3 separate regions of the Homo sapiens genome follow, and regions 1 and 2 are each linked to region 3. Evidence: fine-mapped expression QTL. A gene starts in region 3. Each other region holds a variant in brackets. All regions are shown on one strand. Distances are from middle to middle.

Region 1 (11,044 bases), 210 kb after region 3:
CAGGCCAGCGGGCGCCCGCGTTCATGTTCCGCCAGGAGCAGCCGTTGGCCGAGGGCAGCTTTGCGCCCATGGGCTCCCTGCAGCCGGACGCGGGCAACGCGAGCTGGAACGGGACCGAGGCGCCGGGGGGCGGCGCCCGGGCCACCCCTTACTCCCTGCAGGTGACGCTGACGCTGGTGTGCCTGGCCGGCCTGCTCATGCTGCTCACCGTGTTCGGCAACGTGCTCGTCATCATCGCCGTGTTCACGAGCCGCGCGCTCAAGGCGCCCCAAAACCTCTTCCTGGTGTCTCTGGCCTCGGCCGACATCCTGGTGGCCACGCTCGTCATCCCTTTCTCGCTGGCCAACGAGGTCATGGGCTACTGGTACTTCGGCAAGGCTTGGTGCGAGATCTACCTGGCGCTCGACGTGCTCTTCTGCACGTCGTCCATCGTGCACCTGTGCGCCATCAGCCTGGACCGCTACTGGTCCATCACACAGGCCATCGAGTACAACCTGAAGCGCACGCCGCGCCGCATCAAGGCCATCATCATCACCGTGTGGGTCATCTCGGCCGTCATCTCCTTCCCGCCGCTCATCTCCATCGAGAAGAAGGGCGGCGGCGGCGGCCCGCAGCCGGCCGAGCCGCGCTGCGAGATCAACGACCAGAAGTGGTACGTCATCTCGTCGTGCATCGGCTCCTTCTTCGCTCCCTGCCTCATCATGATCCTGGTCTACGTGCGCATCTACCAGATCGCCAAGCGTCGCACCCGCGTGCCACCCAGCCGCCGGGGTCCGGACGCCGTCGCCGCGCCGCCGGGGGGCACCGAGCGCAGGCCCAACGGTCTGGGCCCCGAGCGCAGCGCGGGCCCGGGGGGCGCAGAGGCCGAACCGCTGCCCACCCAGCTCAACGGCGCCCCTGGCGAGCCCGCGCCGGCCGGGCCGCGCGACACCGACGCGCTGGACCTGGAGGAGAGCTCGTCTTCCGACCACGCCGAGCGGCCTCCAGGGCCCCGCAGACCCGAGCGCGGTCCCCGGGGCAAAGGCAAGGCCCGAGCGAGCCAGGTGAAGCCGGGCGACAGCCTGCCGCGGCGCGGGCCGGGGGCGACGGGGATCGGGACGCCGGCTGCAGGGCCGGGGGAGGAGCGCGTCGGGGCTGCCAAGGCGTCGCGCTGGCGCGGGCGGCAGAACCGCGAGAAGCGCTTCACGTTCGTGCTGGCCGTGGTCATCGGAGTGTTCGTGGTGTGCTGGTTCCCCTTCTTCTTCACCTACACGCTCACGGCCGTCGGGTGCTCCGTGCCACGCACGCTCTTCAAATTCTTCTTCTGGTTCGGCTACTGCAACAGCTCGTTGAACCCGGTCATCTACACCATCTTCAACCACGATTTCCGCCGCGCCTTCAAGAAGATCCTCTGTCGGGGGGACAGGAAGCGGATCGTGTGAGGTTTCCGCTGGCGCCCGCGTAGACTCACGCTGACTGCAGGCAGCGGGGGGCATCGAGGGGTGCTTAGCCCCAGGGCACTCAGAAACCCGGGCGCTGCCTGCTCTGCGTTTCCTCGTCTGGGGTGGCTCTGCAGCCTCCTGCGGGCGGGCGTCTGCTGCTCCTACAAGGGAAGCTTCTTGCTGCCAGGCCCACACATCCCCAGTTGTTGGTTTGGCCACTCTTGACCTGGAGCCATCTTCCTAGTGGGCCACCCCTAATCACTATTGCTTCCTAAAGGTATTTTCACCCTCTTCGCCTGGTACAGCCCTCACAGCTCTTCAGAGCAAGCACTGGACTACAAGGGCATGGCTCACAAAAGGTTAATGGATGGGGGTTACCTAGCCCTGGCTAATTCCCCTTCCATTCCCAACTCTCTCTCTCTTTTTAAAGAAAAATGCTAAGGGCAGCCCTGCCTGCCCTCCCCATCCCCCGCTGTAAATATACACTATTTTTGATAGCACACATGGGGCCCCCATATCTCTTGGCCTTGGTTTTGATGTTGAAATCCTGGCCTTGGGAGAGATGCCTTCCAGGCAGACACAGCTGTCTGGTTCAGGCCAAGCCCCTTTGCAATGCAAGCCCTTTCTGGTGTTATGAAGTCCCTCTATGTCGTCGTTTTCACCAGCAACTGGTGACTGTCCCTTCGACACGGACCTGCTTTGAGATTTCCTGACAGGGAAAAGATTTCTGTCCATTTTTTTCCTGTGCCTAACAGCATAATTGCCTTTTCCTATGTAAATATTATGATGGTGGATCAAGACATAAGTAAATGAGCCTTTCTGCCTCACATCAGCCCTGTGTATAAAGCCATTATTCTCTGATGCACTGTTTGCCCCAGTAACTCACTTTAAAACCTCTCTTTCCAGTGTTCCCTCTCTCCCTCCAGGGCCACTGCTTGAAGAAGAATATGTATGTTTCTATCTTGTATGTCTGTGTGCCCCTCCTGCCCCGAAAGTGCTGACTATGGGGAAATCTTTTAGCTGCTGTTTTTAGACTCCAAGGAGTGGAAATTATGTGGAAGAAGCAAACCTGATACAATTTGCCCAAGGTAAACAGTTTGAAAAGACAAATGGGCCTGCCAAACTGTACAGTTTCTTCCCCAAGAGCTGTTAGGTATCAAAATGTTGTCCTTTCCCCCCTCCGTGCTTTTCTGGTTGAGATCATGTCATTGATGAACTGCCAAAGTCAGGGGAGGAGGGCAGAGACTTTGTGTTTACATCTGCATTTCTACATGTTTTAGACAGAGACAATTTAAGGCCTGCACTCTTATTTCACTAAAGAAAAACTAATGTCAGCACATGTTGCTAATGACAGTGGATTTTTTTTTAAATAAAAAAGTTTACAGATCAAATGTGAAATAAATATGAATGGAGTGGTCCTCTTGTCTGTTATCTGAGTTTTCAAAAGCTTTAAGACTCTGGGAACATCTGATTTTATGGATTTTTTAAAAATAAAAAATGTACATTATAAAAATTTTTTAAACGTTCCATCAGTAACAAAGCTACCATTTACTAAGTGTTTCTGACATGCTAGACACTGTGGTGAACTGGTTGTAGGCATTGCCTCGTTTACTTTTCTCAAGAACGCTATGAGGTAAGTTTTATTACTATCCCCATTTTACAGGTGAAGAAACTGAGTCTCAGAGCAAGTTTGTTAACCTTGCTCAAGGTTAACAAGTGGTGGAAATGCATCGTACCCAGCTTTATCTGGTTCTAGGGCCTGCACTCTTAACCCCAGAACCTTTCCAGAGTTTTGGCATTAGCCCTTCTCAGAACACTCCCAGTGGAGAGGTGTCTATGCAGTGTGCTATCTATACCAGGTGTGAGATATATCCCAGTATTTAATATACACAAGGTGTATACATACCCCAGTGTCTACATGACCTAATGTGTCTATATACCTCAAAGTGTGTATCTACTCCAAAGTGTGGTATATGCACCAAGTGTGGAATATACTCCAAAATGTATATCACACCTTAAAGCATGATAATATATGACATGTAGCATATACTCCATAGTGTGGTTATGCACTAAGTATGGTCTAAAACCTGAATAGAACCATGTATTAGTTGGTGGTTTGAGTTGTCTCTGGCCAGAAGGCATGCATCCTTCTTGTTGCATTGCTATAATATCAAAGTCTGCTCTGCTGTCTAGGAGGGCTTATGGCCCTCATACTATGGTAATGGCACTTTGAAGCTGGAAGGGGCCTTAGTGATCCAGGAGTCCAACCCCTCATCTGACAGATGAGAAGGCAAATGCAGATGCAAGAGGAAGCGACTTGCTCAGGATCCCAAGGCGCTAGGTGACAGGGCTCTGGCTCCAGGCTGCCCGGGTTAGGGCGCAGCTGAGAGATGTGTAGTAGTAGTTCTGTGTGTGTAGTCAGATGCAGTACTGATGAATAGCCACTTATGGAGGAGGGGGGTTTGAGGGGCAAACACAAGCGTCAGGTTGTGGTTTTGGGGGAGGCCAGCTTTTGTGAGCCCAGTCACCTGTAATATGTGCGGACCAGCTTTGGACACCCCCCAGAAGCAGGTCCTCTGCACCCTCTGGGCCATGCAGCATCTCCTCATCTTCCTTTGCTTCTCTCGTGCAGGAGAGGGTGTCTGTGTATGCAGCAGTGGGAGGGTAGAGAGCCCTGAGAAATGATCTGGGCACTGAGGGGCCTGGGAGAGGGAAGACCATGGCTCTGAGGGGGTGAGGAGTTCCTGCCGTCACCTGGATCCTCTGAGCCGGCACACAGGAGGATGGCCAGGTGCTGGGCTCCAGTGACCCTGGCTCAGAGGCTTCAGAAAACAGCCTCCTGGCCTGTGGTGCCACGGCTGGCTCCCTGGTCTGGTTCTGTGGCCTGCTCCCCATCCCACCCTCACCCCAGCCTCTCCTCTCCCTCCTCACTCCAGTGTACCCATTGCCCCAAAGGCAAACAGTGCCAGACAACAGCCTGCCTGGCGAGCCCCCAGGACCCAGGCTGTGTGTCCCAGCCACAGGAGCAGATACAAATACTGCTTGCTGTTGACTCTCAGCTCTGTCCTGTCTGTCAGGGAAGTGTTTGCCTTGCCTCCACCCGCCGAGGGGGAAGAAGCATGGGCTGAGGTGCTACACGGAGGGGCCTCTGGTGTCATGCTCCCTCCTCCTCGATACAGAAGCAGAGAAACCTCAGAGGTGGATGGAGGTTGCAGAAAGTGGGGGAGAGAGGGCTGGAGCCCAGGCATGGGTGGGTTTCTGAGTTCACAGTAGGAATCACTGTTTATTCATTTGCAAAGGGCTCAAGCAACAGTCTGCCAAGGTGTGGGGTGGGGAGGGAAATTAAGGTGAAATGGCTCCCACAGGGATCTTGGCTTAAAGAGCTAACCCCACATTTTCCTGTGCATAGTATCTGTTCCCGAGTATCTGGGCCAAGAGGGTCTGTCTTCGTGGCCGAATCTCCTGTTTTATGTAACTTTGGTTGGGATATTGAAAGCCATTGGCTTTTGGGTCTGAAGTGTGTCTTGCTAGATTTACTCGTGCAAGTGTGCTGGGTTGGGGGAAGGGTAGTGCCTTCATTTGAGCCTGGGCACAAGCACAGTCTCCTCCTCCCCAAGGCTTTGTTCAATTTCTTCTATGCTAAAAGGCTGGGGGAGAGAATGATGAAAACGTGGCTTGGGCTTTCCCCTGTCTATGACTGTATAATCAAATCAGAGATTTAGAGCCAGAAGCATCCTCATCAATCCTTAACTCTTACCTTGTAGTGGCAGATCAAGGGACCTGAGACCTAGAAAAGCTGTTGGTTATGTAGCATTCCAGGAGCCCCTGAGCCCACTCTTCCATGTGACTCTCCGTCTGATGCCATATGCACCCAACATGAATTCTATTTTGTTTTGGGATGTGGTGAGTTGCTAATCAACCCCAGAGGATCC[C/A]CTGTGCCTGCTTTGTGTCAAGGACCATCCTAGGCATTGCAAGGCAGTTCTCTTCCTTCCCTGCATGCACTGTGCAAAGCTCACCACTTGTCCCTGTGGAGTGAGATTAGGGCCTGCCTCTGCCCTCTGGAAGCTTTGGAGCTACATGGGGAGACAGGATGTTCCTGTGAAAAGCACTCATTAGCCACACACAGTGACAGTGTGGCAGTGGGGGAGAGGATGCTGTGTGCCCACCAAGGGTAATAGGCATCTGTACTGTGAGTGAGCAGTGGGGGAGAGGTGGCTGTGGCTGGGAGCTCAGGGCATAGAATGTGGGAGTTGGGATGTCCACACTCTGAGAAGGCTAGGCCCGCGAAGGAAGCTCTGGTTCTAGCAGCTGAGTCCTGTGGGACCAGTGCCAGGCCTGGGCAGTGGCACCTAGGCCCAAGTCAGACCTCAGCTTTCATCCAACCTCATCTTGGGGATGGCATGACAAGGTCCTGTCCCCATTTGGGGACACCTGTAAGGAAGTCTACGTCCTTGACTCAGTAGCATAATAGGATCCAGGTACCGAGGTCCAGAGCCCAGTGCCAGGTTAGCCCTTTGGCCTCTGCCCTGGGCCCTGCCACCCCTCACAGTGGGCCTGAGAGTCCAGGGTGCAGGAAGGGGCACCTTCCTTAGCAGAGGGCACGCGCGAAAGGGAGGCCACGTCAAGTCACGGAGCAAAATCACTAACACTCAGATTTGTTTTGGAAATAGCATTGATCTATTTGATTACCAGAAATCCTGGGGCTTAGAGTTAGTTAAATACAAAAAAAATAGAACAGGGTCTGTTGGAAATAGCCTAGACTGAGGATTAGGAGGCCTGCGTTCTAGGCCCAGTTTTGTCTTTTACCAGCGATGTGGTCTTGAGCAAATCCCTCTCTGAGTCCCTGCTTCTTCATTTATGAAATGCAAGTGGTTGGTCTAATATTATTTAACAGTGTGTTCTGTGCAGTTAATTCAACTACAAAATCTATATTATCTACATTATCTATTGACATTATCATTCTATCTGTCTCTACTGTCTGTCACCTACGTATCATCTCTTCCCTGTCTGCCACCTATCTGGTGAAATGCTGGGGTAAGCAGTCTTTAATAGGTACATCTCCTTCAGGATCTCTCAGAGCCTTTAATGTGCCTATGTGGTTTCCGATTGTCTGAGAGAGGATGACGTGGTGTGCTGTTTCCCAAACTCCCTGGACTGTGGAATTTCATTTTTTTTTTTTTTTTTAACAGAGCATCTCAGAGACTCATGTTTGCTGGAACTCTTGTTGGGTAATACTGGGTTAAGGGATCTCACGGGGCTTTTCTGATGATCCATTTTATAATTCTATGAAATGCCGGTCTGCTCTCTCCTTCTGTCCAGGCCATGGGTGAGGCACACTGGACAGGGCCAAGCCATGTGCTCTCTGTAGGGAGATCTGGCGCTAACGGCCATTGGCCTTATTGAGGCTGGGGTAGAAGTGAGGGTTTGGTGTGTTTTCCAAACATAGGCTAAGCCTATGTGTATGTGTGTGTAACATGTGAGCGTGTATGGGTGTGTGAGTGTGTATGTATCTCTGTGTGCGTGTAAACAGGCACCAATGGACACTGAGGACCACTTTGCTCACCTGGGCCTGGCGTGGAAGCATCTGGGCAGTTGAGGGTATATGTGTACACACCAGGGGAAGAGGTCACAAAGGGAATTAAAGGGGAGTGTGGTGCGTCTCACTGGTTGTCATGTCAGTTGGCCCCTCCCTGCCTGCGAGTCTGCTCCCCCGAGGTGGAATGCCACTCCCCTTCTAGGGCAATGGAGCCAATCTAGGAGGAGGATGGGATGATGCAATGTGCGCATTCTGGGGCAGCCAACACTGCTTCTCTGGCAGGCATATTCTGTAGCCTCCAGGCTGTCCTGTTCTCTGTGGAAGGAGCAGTTTATCTGACTACAGAGAATTCTGGAGGGGATGGGAGGCAAGAGTGAGAGGCTGTTAATGTTGTCCCCAGGACTTGAGACCTCTTTAAAATCTATACCTGAGAAAAACAAGATGGCACCCTGTGAAGGGATGAAAGAAGGGGAATTGAAAACGGACTGTTCGCAAGGTACAGGCAGGGTTAAGAGAAACTTACAAGGGCCAGGGAAGTACCCTGGGACATGCACAGTGGGAAGCTGTCAGCACCTTCAGAAGGGGCGAGGTGCTACCCACACTACTGGAACTGGGACTTCGGGGAAGGATGCCTGGCAGGCATTGCTGGCAGAGGACCCCTGCAGCCATTGCTAAGCTGGGTCTGGACAGGGAGATTGCAGAGAGAATCGGCACATTCTCCACTCTCACTCCTGCACCCTGATCTGCTGGTGGCTGTCCTTAGGCAGAACTCAGAAAGCACAGAAGAAAGAGTAAGGGGGCGGCTCACAGGGCTCAACCTTCCAGGGCCCAGCATGGACAAGGGCAGAGACTATAGCTGGAGGTGCAAGTAGAGAATATCTACTGTAGAACCCAAAGCCTGAGAAAGGCAGAGTAACAGCACTTTGGGGAACAGGCTGGAGGGAGGCCAGCTGCCTGCTTTCTGCAGTTTGTCCAAGGGCCAGCTGCTTGGGTCACTGGGCATCTGTAGAAGAAAAGCACAGGCCCTCCTTCCTCCCTGACTATGCAGATGCAAGGCTGTGTGTGGGGTTATTATGTGTGTGTGTGTGCGCGTGCGCGCACACACACACACACATACACTCCCCTTCCCTGTCTTCCCTGCAACCTGGTCAGGTGAGAGAGAGAGAGCCCCAGGGACCCATGTGGCTGGCTCTTGGCCACAGTTCTCTGGGTAATCCCCATCCCATGTCTGTGGCTCAGACACAGCTCAGAGCTGCCCAGCAGTGATGGCCACTGAGGCTGGGGCCCGGGTGAGGGGAGATGAGGACTGGCCCAGGCTGATGTCCTCACCTGTCCCCTGGTTACACTGGGGAGTCTGCTGCTCTGTTCTCAGCATGCTCCCTGAACACACTTAAGGGATTATTTTTTATGCCCTAGCCCTAGAGGAGACACGGAGACATTTAATGAATGAATGATAGAGTCCTTCCTTCCTTTATTCATTCAACTATGTTTTGGAGCTGCCCCAAGCTAATGTCACTAACATCCCTCTGTTTGTACTAGGTGTTGGGGTAGAGTGGGGAACAAACTAATTAGGATCTTTACCTCACAGAGCTTCTTTTATTGGGGGACAGCTTCCTCTTGTGTTGGGGCAGAGCTTCTTTTGTTTCGGGAGAGCTTCTTTTGTGGGAGAAGAGCTTCTTCTTTTGTTGGGGGAGAGCTTTTTATTTTGTGAGGGGGAGAACTTCTTCTTTTGTTGGGGGAAGAGCTTCTTTTGTGGTGGGAGCTTCTTCTTTTGTGGGCTCCAGCAAGTGGTAAGCCTGGTGATGCAGGTGCCAGGGTGGGTGGGGAAAGCTAGCCCAGATGAAGGCATTGGGGAGGGAGCCCAGAGAAGTGTGCAGCCAGATGAGAGATGAGAGATGGGCAGGAATAGGTCCAGCGAAGGGACTGGGAGTGCCAGGGGTGGGGGACATTGCATATTCAAGCAACTTATGAAGTCCACTTTAATAGGACCATGAGATGTGAAAGTGGCGAGGCTGGAGGAAGATAGTCCAGATCATGCAGCTGCAGGTAAAGGATTTTATCTTGAGGGCATGGGGAGCCATGAGAGGTTTTTTAGGCAAGGGAGGGACCTGATCAGATTTTTTTTGGTTCAGAACAATCATTCTGGCTGCTGGGTGGAGACTGATTGGGGAGGGTTATTGGGAGCAGTAATTCAGTCAAAGTATTAATAGCCTGACTAGGTTGCTGACACCACAGGGAAGGCCAGGAGCCCTCACTCCCTCAGGGTCACCCAGTGGCAGCGCCAGTGTCTGTGCAGACCCAGATATTGGGATTTTAGAGCTTCCCCTGCCTGCAAAATACTGTGAACCACTGCTCCTACCCTCCATGAATTTCCATCTTCAAGGAGTGGCTCCTTGGCTCAGAGCTTCCTATTCATGGTCAAATGCAAACATCTCCTGGAGTGTGAATTCAGTCAGTCATGGTGGTATGTTGACCTAACAGGCCACGGGACCTGACCTGGTGTGACGCGCTTCTCGTTTCCGAATGTCACCTGTCTTATCGACACAACCAGCCAGGGAGGATTTGAGGAGAGACCGTGGAGCACAAGCATGTCATGTCCCCAAAGATTAGTTGATTATGAAGGGTGAATGAGAGCTTGCAAGGACTCACCCCGGCCAACCCCATGGATTCTGCTTGGGATCAGAAGATCTGATAAGCCCCAAATCTGGAACTTGTGCTGCTGACTCCTGTTCCGGGCTGTTCAGGCCCTCAAAGATAAAAGTCATCCATTTCCAAGAAGTTAGGGAACCTGTGACTTGACAGAGATGTCTACTTTGCCCGCCGTGAGGAGCTCTCAGCAGCGAACTCACTGCTCTTGGCTGGGCCTTTTCCTATGACCCTCCACATTTGCTTGTTTGCCTGAAACCTAATCCTTCCATTTTTTAAAAATATATTTTTTAATTGTACTTTAAGTTCTAGGGTACATGTGCACAATGTGCAGGTTTGTTACATATGTATACATGTGCCATGTTGGTGTGCTGCACCCATTAACTCGTCATTTACATTAGGTATATCTCCTAAAGCTATCCCTCCCTCCTCCCCTCACCCCACAACAGGCCCCGGTGTGTCATGTTCCCCTTCCTGTGTCCAAGTGTTCTCATTGGGATTTTGAACACTTACTTGGAATGGAGCTGTCCCTCCCAGGAGCCCCCAGAGAGGGCAGCCCAGGTGAAGGCATTGAGGACGGAGCTTTGGGTTCTATATTAGATATTCTCTACTTGCACCTTTGGCTATAGTCTCTGCCCTTGTCCATGCTGGGCCCTGGAAGGCTGAGCCCTGTGAGCTGCCCCCTTACTCTTTCTTCTGTGCTCTCTGAGTTCTGCCTAAGGGCAGCCACCAGCAGATCAGGGTGCAGGAGTGAGAGTGGAGAATGAGCTGATTATCTCTGCTCTCTCCCTGTCTGGACCCAGCTTAGCAATGGCTTCAGGGGTCCTCTGCCAGCAATGCCTGCCAGGCATCCTTCCCCGAAGTCCCAGTTCCAATAGTGTGGGTAGCACCTCGCCCCTTCTGAAGGTGCTGACAGCTTCCCACTGTGCAATTCCCAGGGAGGGAATGGCTGGTATTGCTGAGAAGGGCACTTTAAAGCTAAAACTTTGGAATCAGGAAGACCTGAATTAAAATCCTGGTTTCATCACATAGCTTTGGTTTAACCTTGAACAGATGGCTAAGCACCAGTTTCTCCACATGTAACTTGTAGAAGAAGTTGCCAGTGTTTTGGTAGGTTGCTTAGGCCTATGCTTGGCATCTGGTAGAGGCTCAGTAGTGCTAACGTTTTCTTCTCTAGTTTGGGAGTTGGGTGGTTCCTTTTACTCCTGTAACTGCCCTGGGCTGAGGTGGGCTGGGTGGGGCAGTGTTTTAGGGTGATTTGTGACAGAGATTTGACCACTTAGGTCTTAGCTTTCTCTTTTTCCAGCCTGATGGAAGACCTTGTGTCTTCAATAGCACAAGAGGGTGGGCCTAGAAGAGCTCCAGGACCCATACGAGACCTGTAACGACCACGATGCATTTCTAGACTTGAAACTGAGATCTCCTGGTGCCAGGTTAGTGC
Region 2 (7,840 bases), 78 kb after region 3:
CTTGCTGCTTTTTAACGTAGCTTCTAGAGTGCACTGGGAATGTGAGCTGTCGTTTCTTCAAGACTACTGTGGATCTGGAGAGCAAGGGATGGGACTAGGGCAAGTTAAAATAGAAAGCTCATCATTCTTAATGAGATTGAGCTTTTTAAAAATAAATGCAACTTGGATGCAAGCTTTTTATTAATTTTTAGAGTTCTGATAAAGTTGATTCTATTTTCCAGTTTTCTTTGTGCTTTTGTGGAAGAGACAGTTTTTAGAGATGCTTACTCTGCTGTTTTCTGTGATGTCGCCTCCACTTGGGCTTTGCCATCCCACACTGACAGACCTCCATGTTTGACTCTCCCTATCTCCACCCCAACCCCACTCAGACTCTGACTCTCCATGCTAGGCTTACCCTGTGTGTGAATACCTTTTCACCTTGCTTGAAATCTTAACTGTTCATGTTGCGCAGCCTCCTCCTTAACCATCAATCAAGCCTATTATGTAGAAATCTTCCTCACTCTCATAGACTCCAGTATCACACCCTGGTTCATCACTACCTGTGGATGTTCTTCTCACCCCCAATCAGGTTCTGATTCTCTGTGTTGAGCTATCTTCCTATGAGCATACCCACCCTATCCCAATTGGCCTCTTAAACATCTTGTGGGTTACCATCATATGTCAGTGTTCATCTCTTCCTGTTCTAACTGATACCCTACACAGAACTGCATCTTTGTGGGATTGTCCTTTTCATCCTACTCAGGCCCTGAGTAGGATTTTTTTAATCAAATAAAAATCCCTTCAGTTTGAATAGTATAATCATGATATCACTCAGTGAAATCCTTGATATCTTATTATTGTAGTGGTAACTTCTGATGGGTATGGGAATGACAATTCTATACCATGCCTTCTTTATTTTTCATTTTAGTTTTACTGAGATAACATATTTTGAAGCTGATCATTTATATTTCTTAAAGAAGAAATTTATTCTAAAAAATTATGTCTAGATACATTAATTTGTTGTTTTATTCATGTAGTAACCATTTCTTGGGCATCTAGTATTGGCCAGGTTCTAGGCTCTGAATATACAGCTGCAAACCAAATAGTCAGAAGCCCCTGCTTTCACAGTTTTCACATTCATAGAGGAGAGGGAGATGATAGACAAAATAAATAAGTAAATATATTTTATGAGGTAGTAAATGTTGTGAAGAAAAATAAAGCAGGGTAAAAAGAATAGGAAGACATTTCTCTTTTATATGTAGATCAAGAATGAGATATTTGAGCAGGGAACAAACAATGTGGATATTTGAGAGAAAGGGCTGTATCTATGCAGATGGAATAGCTAGAACAAAGACTTCATGTGTGAGCATGTAGATCTGCATTCAAAGAAAAGCAAGATTAATATGAATGGAATGCAAGTACCTAGCGGGGAGAGTTGGAGAAAAGCTAGACAAGTGTAGGGGCTAGATCATGTGGAGTCTTGGAGGTTGGAGGTAAGGGCTTGCCTTTTATTTTGAAAGATGGGATGGCATCAGATTTTTTAAGCAAGGGAGTGACTTCATCATATTTAAAAGTTAAATAGGAAGAGTGATGTTAGTAAAATGTCAGAATAGTAGTTTTCAGCATTTGTTTCTTCACAGAAGCATTTCGAATAACCACTCATAGACAAAAATACCTTCACAAGAGCTAAGGATTCCAAATGATAGATTGTAGCACCCGGGTGTAGCATAGATACAACAAATGATGCATTGAAGAGGATAGGAACTACAGTTGCACATTAATTGTTTCACCCCTTCCCAAGCCTGTGCAGCACAGTATGGAGATAGATGCCCTCCAAGTGGAGGAAGGAGAGTCAAGTGAGCCCCTAACTTTACTGTGAACCCCAGCACTAGAACCACCTCAGTGAACCCCAGTGCCAGGCTGGCACCCATGGACCCAGGCACCAGGCCAGATCCCACAGAACCAGTCTCCAGACCCATCCTTGCGGATCCAGTAACTGAGGCTAGCCTGCTGGAGAAGTCAGGCAGCAAGCCTGCTCGTGGACTATGCCAGCCATGCTGTCCGGAATCTCTGGACAGGCTGACTGGTAAAGGGCTTCCTATGTTAAAGCTCCTCTGTAAAGACTGGAGAGGTGACTACTTCTTCAAATATGCAGACACCAGTGCAAGTCCATAAGGATCTCAAATGATCAGGGAAACGTGACACCATCAAAGGAACAAAATAAAGCTTTAGCTATGATAATTTGTTGATAAATATATAATCTAAAAAGATATAAGTTGTGTCCTCAATAATGTAAACTTGGAGAGGGTGTGGAGAAGTTAAGAGTTTTTGTATGTGATTGAAATTAAATTTTTATCAGCTTAACAACAGACTATTATAACTACAAGATGTCTTATATACATTTCGTGGAGAAAAACCCCTGTAAATACACAAAAGATAAAGAGAAAGCAAATAAGTAC[C/CA]AAAAAAAAAAAAAAAATCAAATCGCAAAGGAAAACATTAAGAGAAGATGAAAGAAATAGAGGAGCTACAAGATAGTCAGAAAACAACAAAATGACAATGTTAAGACTTTATCCACAATTACTTTTAATGTAAATGGATTAAGTTCTCTAATCAAAAGGCAGAGTTTTTTAAAATATATTTTTCAAAAGATCCTACAGTATTATGCCTAAAAGAGATTCATTTTAGCATTAAGGACACACATAGGCTGAAAATGAAGAAATGGAAAAAGATATTTCACGCAAATGGTAACCAGAAGAGAATGGGGTGGCTATATTTATGTAAGATAAAATAGACTTCAAGTCAAAAACTGTCATAAGAGACAAAGTCATTATACAATGATAAAGAAGGCAGTTCATCCAGAAGATATAATAGTTGTAAATATATATACACTCAACATCAGAGCACCAAAATATTTTTTATAATGAGAAAGCCAAGATTCTAAAATCTTAACAGAAATGATAGGAACAATAGATAGTAATATAATAATAGGGACTTTTGTACCTCTGCTTTAGCAATAGATAGATTAGCCAGACAGAAAATCAATAAAGAAATAACAGACTTGAACAACATTTTAGGCCAAATGGACGTAACAGGCATATACAGAGCATTCCATTGAACAGTAGCAGAATATACACTCTTTTTAAGTGCACATTGAACATTCTTTAAGACACATTAGGTCATAAAACAAGTGTTAAGAAATTTGAGAAGATTGAAATTGTATCAAGTATTTTTTGTAAGCATAAGAGTATGAAACTAGAAATCAATAACACCAGGAGGAAAACTGGAAAATTTACAAATATGTGGAAATTAACACATTCCTGAACAACCAGTGGATCAAAGAAAAAAGGGACATTTGAAAAGGTGTCTCGAGACAAAAGACAGTGGAAACACAACATAGCAAAACTTACGTGAAGCAGCAAAAGCAGTTTTAAGAGGGAATTTTATGGTGATAAATGCTTACATTAAGGAAAAAAGAAGATAATCAAATGAACAACCTTACTTTGTATCTCAAAGGACTAGAAAAAGCTTGTCCAACCTGTGGGCCACATGCAGCCCAGGATGGCTTTGAATGTGACCCAATACAGACTTGTAAACTTTCTAAGTTTCTTAAAACATTATGAGAGATTTTTTGCATTTTTTTTTTCCCAGCTCATCAGCTGGCGTTAGTGTTAGTGTAAATTACTTGTGGCCCAAGACAATCCTTCTTCCATTGTGGCCCAAAGAAGCCAAAAGATTGGAAACCTTGTACTAGAATCCAAACCAGACATAAAGTTGTTAGAAGGAAAGGAATAATAAAGATCAGAGCAGAAATAAATGAAATAGGGACTAGAACAACTGTAGAAGAGATAATGAAACTAAGAGTTGGTTTTGTGAAAAGAAACTGAACTGACAAATCTTTAGCTAGACTATGCAAAAAAAGGACTCAATTAAAATTACAAATGAAAGAGAAGCCATTACAGCTGATACAACAGAAATACAAATGAGATAATAAGAGACTACAATGAATAACTATACACAAACAGATGGATAGCCTAGAAGAAATAGAAATTTTTTTCTAGAAGCATAGCGTCTACCAATCATGAAGAAAGAGAAAATCCAATCACACCCAGTGACTGTAAGGAGACTGAATCAGTAATCAAGAACCTCCCAAAAAAGAAAAGCTTTGGACCTGAAGGCTCCACTGGTGAATTCCAACAAACCTTTAAAGAAGACATAGCACAAGTCCTAAAACTCTTCCAAAACCTTAGAGGAGGGAATACTTCCAAACTCATTTTACAAGTCTGGTGTTGCTGTGATACCAAAGCCAAACAAGGACACTAAAAGAAAAAAAAAATACAGGTCAGTATCTCTGATTAACGTAGACGCAGAAATCCTCAACAAAATACTACTAAACTGAATTCAGCAACACATTAAAAGGTTCACACACAGTGAGCAAGTGGGATTTATCCCAGGGATGCAAGGATGGTTCAGCATATGCAAGAACCAATAAATGATACAACACATTAACAGAATGAAGGACAGAAATTGTGTGATCTCTCAATAGATACAGAAAAAACATTTGACAAGATTATCACTTTGTGATAAAAACTCAACAAATTAGGGATAGAAGGTACGTATCTCAACACCATAAAGATTATATAAGCCCTCAGGTAGCTGGAAGCTTGTCCTCTTAAGATCAGGAAGAAGACAAGGATTTCTTCTCTCATCACTTCTAGTTTATAAAGTACTGTACATCTGAATCAAAGCAGTTAGACCTGAAAAAGAGATAAAAGATGTGGAAATCAATAAGGAAAAAGTAAAATTGTCTTTCTGTAGATAACATGATCTTATATGTAGGAAACCCTAAGGACTCCGCCAAAAATGTTAGAATTAATAAATGAATTCAGTAAAGTTGCAAAATATAAAATTAGCTTACAAAAACCAGTTGTGTTTCCATAAACTAACAATGAATAAGAAGTTAAGAAAACAATCCCCTGTACAGTAGCATAAAAATAAAAAGGAATAAATTTAACAAAGGAGGTGAATGATCTACACAGAAATCGATAAAACATTGATGAAAGAAATTGAAGAAGACACATAAATGGAAAGATATCCTGTTTTTGAATTTGAAGAATTAATATTATTAAAATGTCCATACTACCCAAAGCAATCTATATATTTGATACAACAGCTATCAAAATTCCAATGATATTTTACACAGAAATAGGAAAAGCAATCCTAAAATTTGTATGTAACCACAAAAGACTCCAAGCAGCCATAGCAAGAACAATTCTGGAAGCATCATACTACCCGATGCCTCCATAATTGTTCAAAATATACTACAAACCTAGTAATCCAAACAGTGTGGTACTGGCATAAAACCAGAGATAAAGACCAGCAGAACAGAACAGAAAGCTTATACCATGTGTACAATCAGTTGATCTTTAACAAAGATGTTAAGAACACAGAATGGAGAAGTGATCGTTTCTTCAATAAATGGTGTTGGAAAAACTGAATATCCATATGCAGAAGCATGAGCATAAAAATTTCATTCCTGTACTATATATAAAAACATGAAAATAATTACACCATGTACAAAAATCAACTCAAAATAGATTAAAGACTTAAAGAGCGAAAACTGTAAAATTACCAGAAGAAAACAAAGGGAAAAGTTTCTTGACATTGGTTGGGGCAATGATTTTTTGGATATGACCCCAAAAGCATAAGGAATAAAAGCGAAAATAGAGAAATGGTATTGCATCAACTGAATAAGCTTCGGCACAGCAAAGGAAATGATCAACAGAGTGAACAATAATTGACAGAATAGGAGAAAATATTTGCAAACCATACATTTAATAAAGGCTTAATATCCAAAATATATTTAAGAACTCAATGATACAAAAACAACCCAAGTTTTTAAGATGAACAAAGGACTTGCATTGATGGTCTTCAAAAGACAACATACAGTGTACATCAGGTATGTGAAAAAATGCTCAACGTCATTAATCATCAGGGAAATGCAAATAAAAACCACAATGAGATGTCACCTCACACCTGTTAGATGTCACCTCATACCTATTATCCAAAAGACGATAATAAGACTGTAAGTGTTGGTGGGGATATAGAGAGAATAGAACTCTTTTACACTGTTGTAAATTGGTACAGCCATGTACTGAAAAATAGTATGGAGTTTCATAAAAAAATTAAAAAGAGAACTACCATATATGATCCATCAATCTCATTTCTTTGACTTCTTGGTACGTATCTAGAGGAAATGAAATTATTATATTGTGAAATGTCTACGTTCCCATGTTCATTGCAGCATTGTTTACAATAACCAAGATATGAAATCAACCTATGTCTTCATTGATGGAAGAATACACACAGAAAATGTGACGTTCAGCCTTCAAATCTAGGAAATCCTGATATTGGTGACATGATCTGATCTTGGCCCACTGCAACCTCTGCCTCCCAGGTTCAAGCGATCCTCCCACCTCAGCCTCCCAGGTAACTAGGATTATAGCCATGTCTGGCCAATTTTTCTGTATTTTTGGTAGAGGTGGGATTTCACCATGTTGGCCAAGCTGGTCTTGAACTCCTGACCTCAAGTGATCCGCCCGCCTCAGGCTCTTAAATTACTGGGATTACAGGTGTGAGCCACCACGCCTGGCCTAATAATGTCTTTTCAATTGATTAAAACTTACAGGCACAGGGCTGTTTTTATTTTTGATTTAGGACAGACTTAAGAGGTCATCTGTAGATTGTTACAGACAATGAAACTACTAGTTTCTCTTAAATATTGCCCTCTTTCACACTAGTTAACCTTAATTTTTTGCCTTTTTACGTTTTGTTTTTTTCAGCTTTTAATAAAGCAGTAATTTAAGTGATTTTTTCCAGTTAAATTTTTAAAATATAGTCTTCACTTTTAGATAAATTTTAGGTTCATAGCAAAATTGAGTTGGAAGTACAGAGTTCCCGTATATTCCCTTTTCCACCCTACAAGCGAAGTCTTCCCTGCCACCACCATCTTGCATCAGAGTAAGCACATTCATTATTATTGATGAACTTGCATTAACATATTATCACAGAAAGTGCATAGTTTACATTAGGGTTTTTACTGTTGTAGGTTCAATGGATTTTGACAAATGTGTAATGACATATAACTATCACTATAGTATCATAGGGAATTGCTTTACTGCCCTGAAAATTCCTGTGTTCCACCTATTCATCCCTCACTCCCCCAACCCCTAGCAATAACTGATTTTTTTTTTTTAAGTTTACTTTAAGTTCCAGGATACATGTGCAGAATGTGAAGGTTTGTTACATGGGTATACATGTGCCATCATGGTTTGCTGCATCGATCAACCTGTCGTCTAGGTTTTGAGCCCTGGCTGCATTAGGTGTTTGTCTTAATGCCCTCCCTCCCCTTGCCCCGCACCTCGCAAAAGGCCCTGGTGTGTGTTGTTCCCCTCCGTGTCCATGGGTTCTCATTGTTCAATTCCCACTTATGAGTGAGAACATGCAATGTTTGGTTTTTTGTGCCTGTGTTAGTTTGTTGAAGATGATGGCTTCCAGCTTCATCCATGTTCCTGCAAAGGACATGAGCTCATTCTTTTTTTGTGACTGCATAGTATTCCATGGTATATATGTACCACATTTGTTTATCCAATTTGTCATTGATGGATGGGCATTTGGGTTGGTTCCATGTCTTTGCTATTGTAAATAGTGCTGCAGTAAACATATGTGTGCATGTGTCTTTATATTAGAATGATTTATACTCCTTTGGCTATATACCCAGTAATGGGATTGCTGGGTCAAATGGTATTTCTGGTTCTAGATCCTTGAGGAATCGCCACACTGTCTTCCCCAATGGTTGAACTAA
Region 3 (11,044 bases):
ATGCAAGAAATGCCCCTTGAAGGGTTTCTAAACGTTGTACAATGCTTACTACCCTTTCCCTCTTCCCCACTTTCAGGCCCCTGAGATGGATTCATCTGATACCAGGAGCCTCTAGGACCCAGAAATTTAACTGTCAATCAAGAGGCATGTGAGGGAAAGTCCAGCCCAGCCTGGGTGCCAGAAGGTCTGGATTCCTGGTCTGCACATTCCCTACAACTCTGGGCAGAGATCTCATATGTACTTCTGGCTCAGCTACTAACTTAGCTGTGTGGCTTTAGGTGACCCACTTAACTTCTCTGAATCTGTTTCTCCATTTGTAAAATAAAAGGTTTGGACTAGGGAATCCCCAAATTTCCTTTCAGTATAAAAGTTCCATGATTACCAGTGACCTGCTCAAGGTTCATTATTTCCCTCATGTTTAAAGCACAGAATCTTGTCCACTTCATAGGGAGGTGGTGAAAGTCTATGCACATGTGCTCAGTAAATCTTAGGCCAACACAAATGTCAGCTATCATCATTATTATAAGAATTCTTTATGCAGCTCTTTCTTCAGAACATGTTTTATATCTTTTACCATTTGTGCTAAAGTGCAATTTTTGCCTTAGAGAAATTCTCAAAATTCAGGCTTTGGTTTGACAAAAGGAGACAAGGCGTCAGTTCAGGTAGATGAAGTTGCTGCAAATGACAGCAGCATCTAAAATTTCTTAGGAAGGAAGTGGGCTAAGACCTACCCTTAGCCCCCAGAAAGACAAATTCTCCTCAATTTCATTTAGGGGCATGACCATTTCTTATTAAGAAACAGAACTCTCAAATGAGGCTTTACCCTAAGAATGAAAAGGCCTTGGAGAGTTCCAAAGGCATTAATAGTAAATCTAGGTGCTTATCTTTTGCCTTCAACTGTGCTTTTTCAAGTACTTTACCCAAATTAATTAATTAGTGCTCCTAAACCCACACCAGCCATCACTTTGCCTTTGGGATGGAGGGAGGTGATATTATCTGAGCTTTGCATTAGGAGAAAGCCCCTGGGTTGACAGTCCCTCTGTCCATACCCGGTGGAATCCTCTCCTGCCAACAGTGGCAAACTCCTTTGTTTGTTTGTTTTGAGGTGGAGTCTGTCTCTGTCACCCAGGCTGGAGTGCAGTGGCGGGATCTCAGCTCACTGCAACCTTCGCCTCCTAGGTTCAAGAGATTCTCCTGCCTCAGTCTCCTGAATAGCTGGGACTACAGGCATGCACCACCACGCCCAGCTAATTTTTTTGTATTTTTAGTAGAGATGGGGTTTCACCATGTTGGTCAGGCTGGTCTCAAACTCCTGGCCTCAAGTGATCCGCCCACCTTGGCCTCCTAAAGTGCTGGGATTACAGGCATGAGCTACCACACCCGGCCAGCAAACTTTCTTATCTCTTGTTCTCCATTCCCAGGACTCCCATGGTACCAACTCAGTACCTTGCTCAGCATCCCAGGGTGTTAGAACTGAATGGCTGCTTATGGACTCCCTGCAATGGGCACCTCCTTCTTTTACAGCACAGAAAATTGAAGCATTCAATTCACTCAGGGAGAGGAAGTGAAACACCCAAAGCAACACAGCTAGTTAGGGACAGGGTCACTACCTTGTCTTAAGAGGCGAAAAATAGGAACTATCTCCCACCCTCTCCCCTGACAAAACCAAACACTCTTTGCGCCCCTCCAAGTATCTCAATACTGCTTAAGCCTGAGGAGTACGGGGAAGATGAAGTATGTAACGTTTATCTACTCACAAAGCACAGAGTTTCTGTTGCCACCTCTGAGCAGCTGTCTTGTTCTGGGCAACTGTGATCTCCCTTCCTCTCCTAAGCTCTTGGAATGAATCTTTCTTAAGGGAAATGGAAGTTGCAATTCCATTATTCTGTATAGAGTGAGTTAAGGGGAAGGCCTCTCTCCTTTTCTGTCATCTAATAGCTAAATTAACATAAGCCCATAGGCACAGGGATTCAGGTAACAGAAACCTAGTTTGTGACAATTACAACGTGAAATGAAAACATACATTGTGGCCCAGAAGCCCGGGCAGCCCTAGGCTTCAGATATTACCTACCCTAAAGTAGTATAATGCCTTTTACCAAGAACACAGCTGAATCAACTGTGCTTTTCATAGAACAGGCACACACTAAAATATTTGTGGATTGATTTGGTAGGCAAAAATTCTTGGCACTTGGATACTTCTCCATTTTCAGCTTATTCTTAAAAAAATTTTTTTTGTTAAATGTTCAGCTGCAAAGGCACAGGTGACTAAGTGTTCAACACAGCTGGAAGGAATGTTGGTGACAGTGGCTGTCATCTATATTTCCCAAGTTGGTTTCTAAATAACACTGCTTCTGGGGTATCTTGAGAAAAAAAGGTTCTGTGTTTAAACAAGGTAGGAAACATTACTAATCTTCCTACCTTGGTCTCCCAAGACACTAAAGGCACATAGCTTATTAAAAACACTGAGAAGGCTGGGCACGGTGGCTCATGCCTGTAACCCCAGCACTTTGGGAGGCCGAGGAGGGCAGATCACTTGAGATCAGGGGTTCGAGACCAGCCTGGCCAACATGGTGAAACCTCAACTCTACTACAAATATAAATATTAGCCAGGCGTGGTGGCAGGCGCCTATAATCCCAGTTACTGGGGAGGCTGAGGCAGGAGAATCACTTGAATCCAGGAGGCACAGGTTGCAGTGAGTCAAAATAGTGCCATTACACTCCAAACTGGGCGACAAGAGCAAAACTTCATCTCAAAAAACAAACAAACAAACAAAAAACCACTGAGAAGAGTTGTGGGTAAAGAAACAGTTTTATTTTTGTTTAAACGAGTTATTTCCAAGACCATTTGACCATGGAACAATCCCTCCCACATTTTTTTTTGCATGATATCTATTAAAGTTCCACAAAATTCATGTTCTTTGGAAAATAACTTGGGAATTACTGATTGAGCCCAATTTCTGAATTTTATTGGTAAAGAAAAAGGTCCTGAGAGGGGCTGAAGTTCTTACAGGAAGTTAGTGGGGGAGGTAGGACGACAACCCTATTTCCTGAGTGTCTGGCCCAACCTTGTCAACCACACGCAAATACGGCAGCATTCTCAAAGGTGGGTTCTGGGATCCCAGCCATCATGGGTACTGCTTGAGATGATACGCAAAAAGGACATGAACGTTTTCCTCCCTAATGGGTCCTTTGGGGGCAATTTGCTAAAACATAACAGGTTGTTTTAGATGCTTCTTAAAATTGGTAATCATATCCCATTCTTTCTTTATCTCATAGAACTCGGGATGCCTACCCAACACAGCCTGATTATGCTATATGTGCTTAGTAAGTACATTCAATGAATGACTAAATGAAAGACAGGGAGGAAGAAGGAAACAGTCCAGAACTGAAAGGGATGAGAAGAGAAAAAATGTGGAGAAAGAGAAGGATGGGTAACAAAGGAGCCAGCAGTCACTGATCAGTAGAGTATAGGTGAGAGAGGGGAAAGGAGACAGCTGCAGATAATGGAAAATAACAAAACAAAACTGAGGTCTGGGAAGCTCCGATTTTAAAAAGTGAACATGAGTTATGAGACTAATTCAGATACTGGCCACACCAGGAGGCCCCCGCCCAGGAGATGAGGATGACCACCAACTGCTGAGAATCTTTGTAAACTCAAATCAAGGTGTATTTATTGCACAGGCACAATAAATGAACAAGGCATCTTAAGTACTACAATGACAGGTGAGTGGGTCAGGCACAGTGGCTCACGCCTGTAATCCCAGCACTTTGGGAGGCCGAGGCAGGCAGATCCCTTGAGCTCAGGAGTTCAAGAGAAGCCTGGGCAACATGGCAAAACCCCATCTCTACTAAAAATACAAAAAACTAGCTGGGTGTGGTGGCACAGGCCTGTAGTCTCAGCTACTTGGAAAGCTGAGGTGGGAGGATGGCTTGACCCCAACAGGTTGAGGCTGCAGTGAGCCAAGATTGCACCACTGCTCTCCAGCCTGGGCAACAGGGCAAGACCCTGTCTCAAAACAACAACAACAACAAAATCACAGATGAGTAAGACACAGGTCTTTCCCTAAACAAGGTTACAGTCTAATGGGCAGAAGGGCTAGGACAGGGACTCAGATGAAATAATGCCAGGTAGAATGTGATCAGTGCCCCTGGAGGTGTGGCAAGCCAACACTGTGAGGAATCAGCGGCAGGAAGATCATATCAAATCACGAGGCTCCAGAAAAACTACGAGGGTCCAGGAATGGTGGCTCACGCTTGTAATCTCAACGCTTTGGGAGGCAGAGGTGGGCTGATTGCTTGAGCCCAGGAGTTCAAGACCAGCCTGGACAACATGATGAAACCCTGTGTGTACAGAAAATACAAAAATTAGCTGGGCATAGTGAGCTGTGCCTGTAGTCCCAGTTACTCAGGAGGCTGAGGTGAGAGGATCGTTGAGCTAGGGAGGCTGACGGAGGTCGAGGCAGCAGTGAGCTGTGATCATGCCACTGCATTCTCCTGGGCTAAAGGGCAAGCCCCTGCCTCAATTAAATAAAACAACAACAACAACAAAATAAAAAACTACCAGGAAGGGCCATGAGGCACAGAAGGATTGCATCAGGCGGAGATAGGAGATGAGAAGAGAGACATTTCAAGGTGATATATAAAGAACTACCAGGGGGTGAGGAAGCATATGGGGAGATGTGTGGAGACACAGCCTGAAAGTCTTGAAGTCACATCACGGAGCCTTGAATGACCGACCGAGGCGCTGACACTCAAGAGAGGCAATGGGAAGCCAGTGAAGGTTTGTGTGTGTGTGTGTGCGTGTGTGTGCAGAGAAATAGTAGCATTAGAGATGATTCCCAGGCAGGGTGACTGGGCAGCCAAGGGAAAGCGCTGGCCTGTGCGGGATGAGGCAGTTGGGTTCTGGAGAGCACAAGCAATCATTCGGTGCTGCCCATCAGACAACTGAAAAATCTGATCAGAGGCAGTGGCTAAGTCCCCGCCTGGGAACACAAAGGAAGCCTAAGGTTCTGGTTATCACCCTCAGGGGACCGTGACCTTGAAAGAGTAAGGATAGTACCAGCCAAAACCAATGCAGCCAAGAGGAAAAGTCACAGAGAACAGCGAGGGGAGGTGGAAGTTTCAATACAGAAATTGTAGCCATGGCTGAGAACCCCAGCACTGGAGGCCGGAATTTGTGCGTTTGAACGCCAGAGGCTTGGCTAGTCATGATTAGCAAAGGAACTTCAAAGAGTTTTGGAGCCTGCTTTATATCTGTGAAATGGGAATTATTTCCATCTCAAAGGTTTGAGGGGATTCGCTGAGAGAAACTTCTTAGCATGGGATCTCCAGAAACTGGAAGCCACAGAGAAAGCAGCGGCCAGAGGGAGGAGGAATCGGACAGGCTGATCACTTGGAGTGTTCGCCTAAGCAGTTTCTAGAAATGGAGGCAGGGACCATCAGGAAGCTCAAAACCTTTGCTTCAGCCGAGTTTGCAGAACGCCCTGTGAGGAGAATGGGTGAGCTGGGTCGAGGAAGCTTCATCCTCGTCCCCATCCCCCAGCACTGCCCTTTTCCCAACGCTCCCATCCCGCCACGCCTCCCAACATACCCCCACCCCGACTTCCCGCTCAACTCCCGCTCCAGCCAGTCCCAGGAGCCACATGCGCATGCGCCCTCCCGCGCCCCTCCCCAACTTTCCACGTTTCACTCCTCTCCCTTTTCCTCCTCAGCTCCGGCTCCGCCGCCACGATTGGCCAGCCGACCACCCGGCCTCGGCCAATAAGCGCCGCCCTCTCGCCCCCGTGTTACTGGGTAGAAGAAAACAAAAACAAACAGAGCGAGAAGGGCCAGAGACTCTCCGAGGCGGCGGCAGAGACAGAAGAGCGGGGTCGGGGCCGGCTGACCAGGAACCTGGGCGAGCAGCGGCGGGGGCCCGAGGGGTCAGTACCAGTAGGCGCGGCTCACACGCTCGGGAAGACTGCGCCCTCTCCCCCATCCCTCCTCGGAGGCAGCCGCAAGATGGGAGGGGGCGGGGGCGGAGGCGTGGGGGTCGCGGTCCTGTCAGGTCCGGGCCTGCGGTGCGGGGGTCCGGCTGCCTTCTTGTAGCCCCGCAGGTCCAGCCGCGCCCTCCCCAACGCCCCGGACTGCGGGCATCCGGCCTGGTTCCCTCTTTCTGAGCCCAGCCTGGAGCGTGTCGGCGCGGGCCCGCCCCCTCCCGGAGCCATCTCCCCACTGAGAGGGGCGCGCGAGGCGCTCGCCCTTGAAGGTCCCCCTCAGCCCTCCTCCCCCTCTGGCGGAGGTTGAATTCGGGGGCCGGGATTGGAAGGCGTGTTTCCGGCTGGACTGAAATCCTGTGAGGAAGATTCGCGCCCTCCCCGCCCCCTGCCCTCCCTGGGAATCCTCTGAAGATGCGGCCCCCTGTCCTTCGTGAACCCGGAGCCCCGGCCTCGGCCCCGGCCCAGCCCCTTCCGGGGGCCGACCCGGGCTGGGACTTCGGGGGTCCTAGCCTGAGCCCGCTGCGGGAGAACAGGCCCGGCCGCTGTGGGGAGGGGCCGCGCGCTATCCTCGCCGGGGGCGCTGGGAGGCGAACACGTGCCCGCCGCCCCATCCCTGCGCGAACTTCGTCGCGCCCGTCTTCCGGCAAAGGGTCTCTTTTTTTTAGTTTAGGTAAAATAAAATCTCCCAGAGAAAACAAAGCCGGGAAGGGAGCCCCCTTTCTGTGAAACGCATGCCATCTTCTCCATTTGTCAGTTTGATGCTGTAACGTACATGGGGTTTTGCAAGAGCTTCAAAACTGTCTGCAGACGTCAATTTCGCCCCCCTCCCCCTTGTGAGAACTCGCTACGTAGCCAGCAACTGTGTAGTGTCTACAAATGATGAAAACGATCAGAAATGCGATTAGGTGTCGGGGAAAAAAGGGTTTCCCCTGTTTTTAACTTGTATTTTTACTTTAATTGTTACAATCTTGATATTCTTAACGTGACTTTTTTGGGAAACCACCAAGTGCTTTTTAAGCAAGGAGTTACTGGTATTTATGCCCTTAATATTCCTTCATTATAGGCTTATTGAATACGTTAATATCTCAGTAAGTGTATTTGAATTATAATTGACTGGCTTTTTCTGTGGTACTAATGTGAAAGGAAAAAATATTAGGACTGCAAAAATAAATGCCGCTTGAATATTATCTGTAGTGCTTGCTTTTGCATTACTGTAGTAGAATGCTTTTAGCTGGTTTTAAGCTGCTAATTAGCCGTTCGTAGCCGAAGAATGAATACAAGTAATCCTAGTTAATAAATGGCCAAAGCTTGACTCCCCAAAATGCCAGAGCAATTTATGAGGTATATTTCAGGAAATACATATGTATATATTTCGTGGGGGAGTGGAGGGTCTGTCTCTTAGGGAATGTCTTGGCAGTTGAATACTTCTGATTGTATATTTCGTGTAACACACTGGAGAAAAGAACAGTGTTTAATGTCAGCCTTCATTTTCTTCTAACTTGTATGTATAGTTTTCTCATCGAAAATTCATTTTTGTAGGTTAGTATGAAGGAAATAGCGTTTGGATTTTTTGCTTTATATTTTCTTGTTTGGGCCAATTAAGGGTTGTTAAATAAATTGGAAAAAATCCTACTACTTTAAAGAGCGTAAAAACGTGGAACATGTCTTATCTAAACTCTTAAAACGTGTTTGTTGCTGTCAAATATGACTTGAGTTCCTGATCGGGTTATCATTGCCTAAAGACACAGGACTATTTTTTTTATTAAGATAACTTTGTTTTTATCTTAATAAAAGAGATGATAGTCATTTCCTGACAGTTTTGTCTGACGGAATGCCTTCTGTATAATAGTTTAAAATAATTATTTTTAGTGTTTGGAAAACAGCATTTAAAAGTTTGAACAGCAGAAGTCTGTTTTAAGAAGCTTCTGTTAACCCTTGAAAAGAATCTTCCTGTGGGATATTAAAATTTTGGATTGAACTTGTGCAAACAGTACTGGATTTGGAAGGTCTGGATTCTCATCCTGGCTGTTCCACTAAGCAGCTGTCTGTCCTTGGACATATCACCTACCCTCTCTGAATCTGTTTAGTTGTGTGTAAGGTGGAATACCTACCCGAAGGTTTTTCTGTAAGGTACATTAAATAATACATGTACAATTCTTTTTGAATTGTAAAGGGCTTTATGAACATCAATTATAATCATTTCGCTTATTAGGTTCTGCAGAAAGTATTCTCTCAAAAGTTATACTTTCATCAAGAATGAAAAAGACTTTGTAATGGAACTCTAAAAAACTGAAACACGTATCATATGACATTATTCCTTTCCTATATGTATTTCATGCATGGAATTAAAACAGAATGTAGCCTTTTCAGCCATGAAGGATGCTGAGTGTTTAGATTTGCAAACCATTTTTGTTCATATATTTATATGAATCTCTACATATTTTTAAGATTTTTTTTTCATATCTAAAGTTGGCGGGAGTTATAGTGAAAAGTGATTATAAAGATTCACATATATTAATTTATTCTTAACAGAATTAGAGAATGATCTCACCATTTTCTTAAGTTCCCAAGCAATATGATAGCATATTAGTCTGAGGATTATACCATAGTAAGAAGCCTATAATTTTAACATAAGGTCCATTTGTTTTTGTTTCACAAAATAATACCGTTTTCTGAAGAAAAGGGCTATAAACTTATGTTAGCAAATAGTAGTACATAATGAGGAATTTAAAAGTCAGTTTCACCTTTGAGTCCCAGGAGGCTCTGTATATATCATTGTTATCCTAAAATGACATCTAACAGTAGGTTAAGTTATATAGGAAAAAATGTGCTTTTCTGTAATTAATTTATTAGGCATTTTCACTAATTTGTGCATTTTATATCTCTGAAGAGCACACTGCTAGCAACCTGATTGTAAATGACCAGAAGGACTTATATCCAACCTATGTGACTTAAACATACACTTAAGTACTCTAAACCACTATTTAAAAAATACTTCTAGAGAGATTCTGAAATCTTAATTTGGTTGCACTTTCTGGTAATATATTTTTTGAAAACTATTTTGATATTTCTTTCATATAACATTATTGGATCTGTATCACTAAGTTAATTGTCTAAAAGGTAACTGATTTCATCAAACCTTCCAGTATTAATAATTTTTAAGCCATTTTGAAACTGAGGCCTAAAATACTGAAATGCTTATGTCGTTGTACTTACTCCTTTCTGAAATGATCAGATTTTTAAAAAATGGATTTCTCATATAAATAATATTATCAAAAAAGGATTTCTCATATAAATAATATTATCAAAAAAGCTGATTTTAAAAGTTTCTCCCAAAGTCTTATTCTAGTAATTATAGAGACCTAGGTAATGAGTGGCAGATATATCTGCCTTTCAGATATGCCGTAATGTGAAAAATAACACAGTCATGTGATATTCTTTATTAACTAAAACTGTGTTGTTTTTATTTTGGAGTAGTTCTCATAATTCATTGGTAGGGAACTATCCAGTATTTATATTCCTATGTATGTATATCAGATTAATTTTGAGGCTTGGTATTCCTAAAAGATTTGGATGTGTGTATTTCTTTAACTTGACGTAAACATGTATCACAAACATATCTTTTAATTCCAATTAAAGGGGTGCTTTGGCACATGCTGAAATCTGGGATTTTTTTTTTTGACTTTGATAAATTTATCAAAAAGATTGGAACCAAATGTTAATTAGGGTAAGTTGTCTTTGAAAGTAAAGTGAACTGTTTTATTTAATGGAATTGTGTGTTTTTTGTTGTTGTCGTTTGTTTTTACAGTGTGCTTAAGTAAGTTTAATTCAGCTTAATTACATCAGTTTAAAAGATCTTGAAGCTTTCTTTTTTTCTTTTAAAAAAACAGATTCTGAAGGAAGATTTCCATTAGGTAATTTGTTTAATCAGTGCAAGCGAAATTAAGGGAAAATGGATGTAGAAAATGAGCAGATACTGAATGTAAACCCTGCAGGTAAGTAAGGATATCCTTTTTTCTTTTTTTCTTCGTTTTGAGACAGGATCTTGCTCTGTCACCCAGGCTGGAGTGCAGTGGTGTGATCATGGCTCACTGCAGTTTTGACTTTCCTGGGCTTAAGAGATCCTCCCCTATCTCAGCCTCCTCAGCAGCTGGGACAACAGGTGTGTGCCACCACACCAGGCTAATTTTTTATTTTTTGTAGAGATAGGATTTCACTATGTTGCCTAGGCTGAAATATCTTGAAGCTTGACTATGTTGTGAGGAAGCTTCAGACCATTCCATATTTTATAAAAACATGATAGAAAAACTATCTTTAAATACTCTTTTATTCATGCTGTAAGAAAACAGGCTATATTATTTTTAAAGTCAAGTTTGTGATTTTTATTTTCATGGAAATTCATTACATGTCCTATTTTTCTGCCTATCCTTTCACATTCCACATATTCCTATTCTCTGTTATATAGTACAGAATAGAGAAGAATAGTGAGCCTGCTTATTTTCACATGGGCTAGTTAGTGATTTCTGTAATATAAACTTACTGGTATCTTTGGTATCTTTCCTAACAAATAATTTTTATATTCTAAATTACCTAGGGTATTTTCCCTAATTCTCCATGGTGCTTCAATAGCATGTTATTATCATAAAAATGAACAGTTTTGTGGAATAGATGACCAAATGTGAGTAACTCAAGATAATTTAAAATGTATTTATAGTTTTAAAAATAATCTCCCAAAAAGTTAATTAGAATTGTGTAATATCTGAATAGTGAGAACAGTTCATATTGGTATACTTTGGATAATTCTTTGTCTTATAATTTTATTAATATTGAAAGCTATTTTCTGTCATTTTAAGTGTATTTCGTAACTAAATACTACATCTTTCTTTCCTCAGTGACTTAACTCACTATTGTTTACAATGTACATAGTTTTCTTTGATCTGAACAAACATGTTGAATTTGAAGCTTCTTTACCATTGTTTATTTACAGATCTTTTTAAAGTATGGTAAAAAATTGAAAAAAATTTATGTAATTAATGATCATTTCTGTGCTGCTGTATACAATAGCT

Direction of the effects. Positions count from the first base shown, and alleles are read on the strand shown. Sizes are in standard deviations (SD) of each study's normalised expression.
With allele A in place of C in region 1, the expression in CD4 T cells of the gene that starts at base 5,831 in region 3 is lower (small effect, 0.23 SD a copy in Kasela 2017).
In carriers of allele CA in region 2, the expression in CD4 T cells of the gene that starts at base 5,831 in region 3 tends to be higher than with C alone (large effect, 0.86 SD a copy in Kasela 2017).

Evidence for each region. PIP is the estimated chance that this variant, and not a neighbour inherited with it, causes the effect.
Region 1: its variant is the best candidate, but not a certain one, in a credible set for the expression of PDCD4 in CD4 T cells (Kasela 2017, PIP 0.52).
Region 2: its variant is the best candidate, but not a certain one, in a credible set for the expression of PDCD4 in CD4 T cells (Kasela 2017, PIP 0.82).

What each region holds. Positions count from the first base shown.
Region 1 is chr10:111,077,974-111,089,017 of GRCh38, forward strand. ADRA2A (adrenoceptor alpha 2A) reads left to right here. Exons shown (of 1, transcript NM_000681.4): 1 at 1-2,934. The coding sequence starts at 24. The coding sequence ends at 1,421. Among named protein-coding and RNA genes, the nearest start is that of ADRA2A, 6.5 kb to the left of the region's middle. The variant C/A (reference allele first, on the strand shown) is at 5,354.
Region 2 is chr10:110,945,328-110,953,167 of GRCh38, forward strand. All of the region lies in intron 1 of SHOC2 (SHOC2 leucine rich repeat scaffold protein), which reads left to right. Among named protein-coding and RNA genes, the nearest start is that of SHOC2, 30 kb to the left of the region's middle. The variant C/CA (reference allele first, on the strand shown) is at 2,439.
Region 3 is chr10:110,866,098-110,877,141 of GRCh38, forward strand. PDCD4 (programmed cell death 4) reads left to right here and starts at 5,831. Exons shown (of 12, transcript NM_014456.5): 1 at 5,831-5,921; 2 at 9,869-9,973. The coding sequence starts at 9,931. It overlaps PDCD4-AS1 (PDCD4 antisense RNA 1), which reads right to left and starts at 4,807. Exons shown (of 1, transcript NR_026932.1): 1 at 2,793-4,807. It overlaps LOC124902500 (a long non-coding RNA gene), which reads left to right. Exons shown (of 2, transcript XR_007062288.1): 2 at 77-351. RefSeq lists enhancers at 1,452-1,501, 4,329-4,939 and silencers at 1,622-1,691, 5,944-5,993, 6,024-6,173, 6,384-6,583.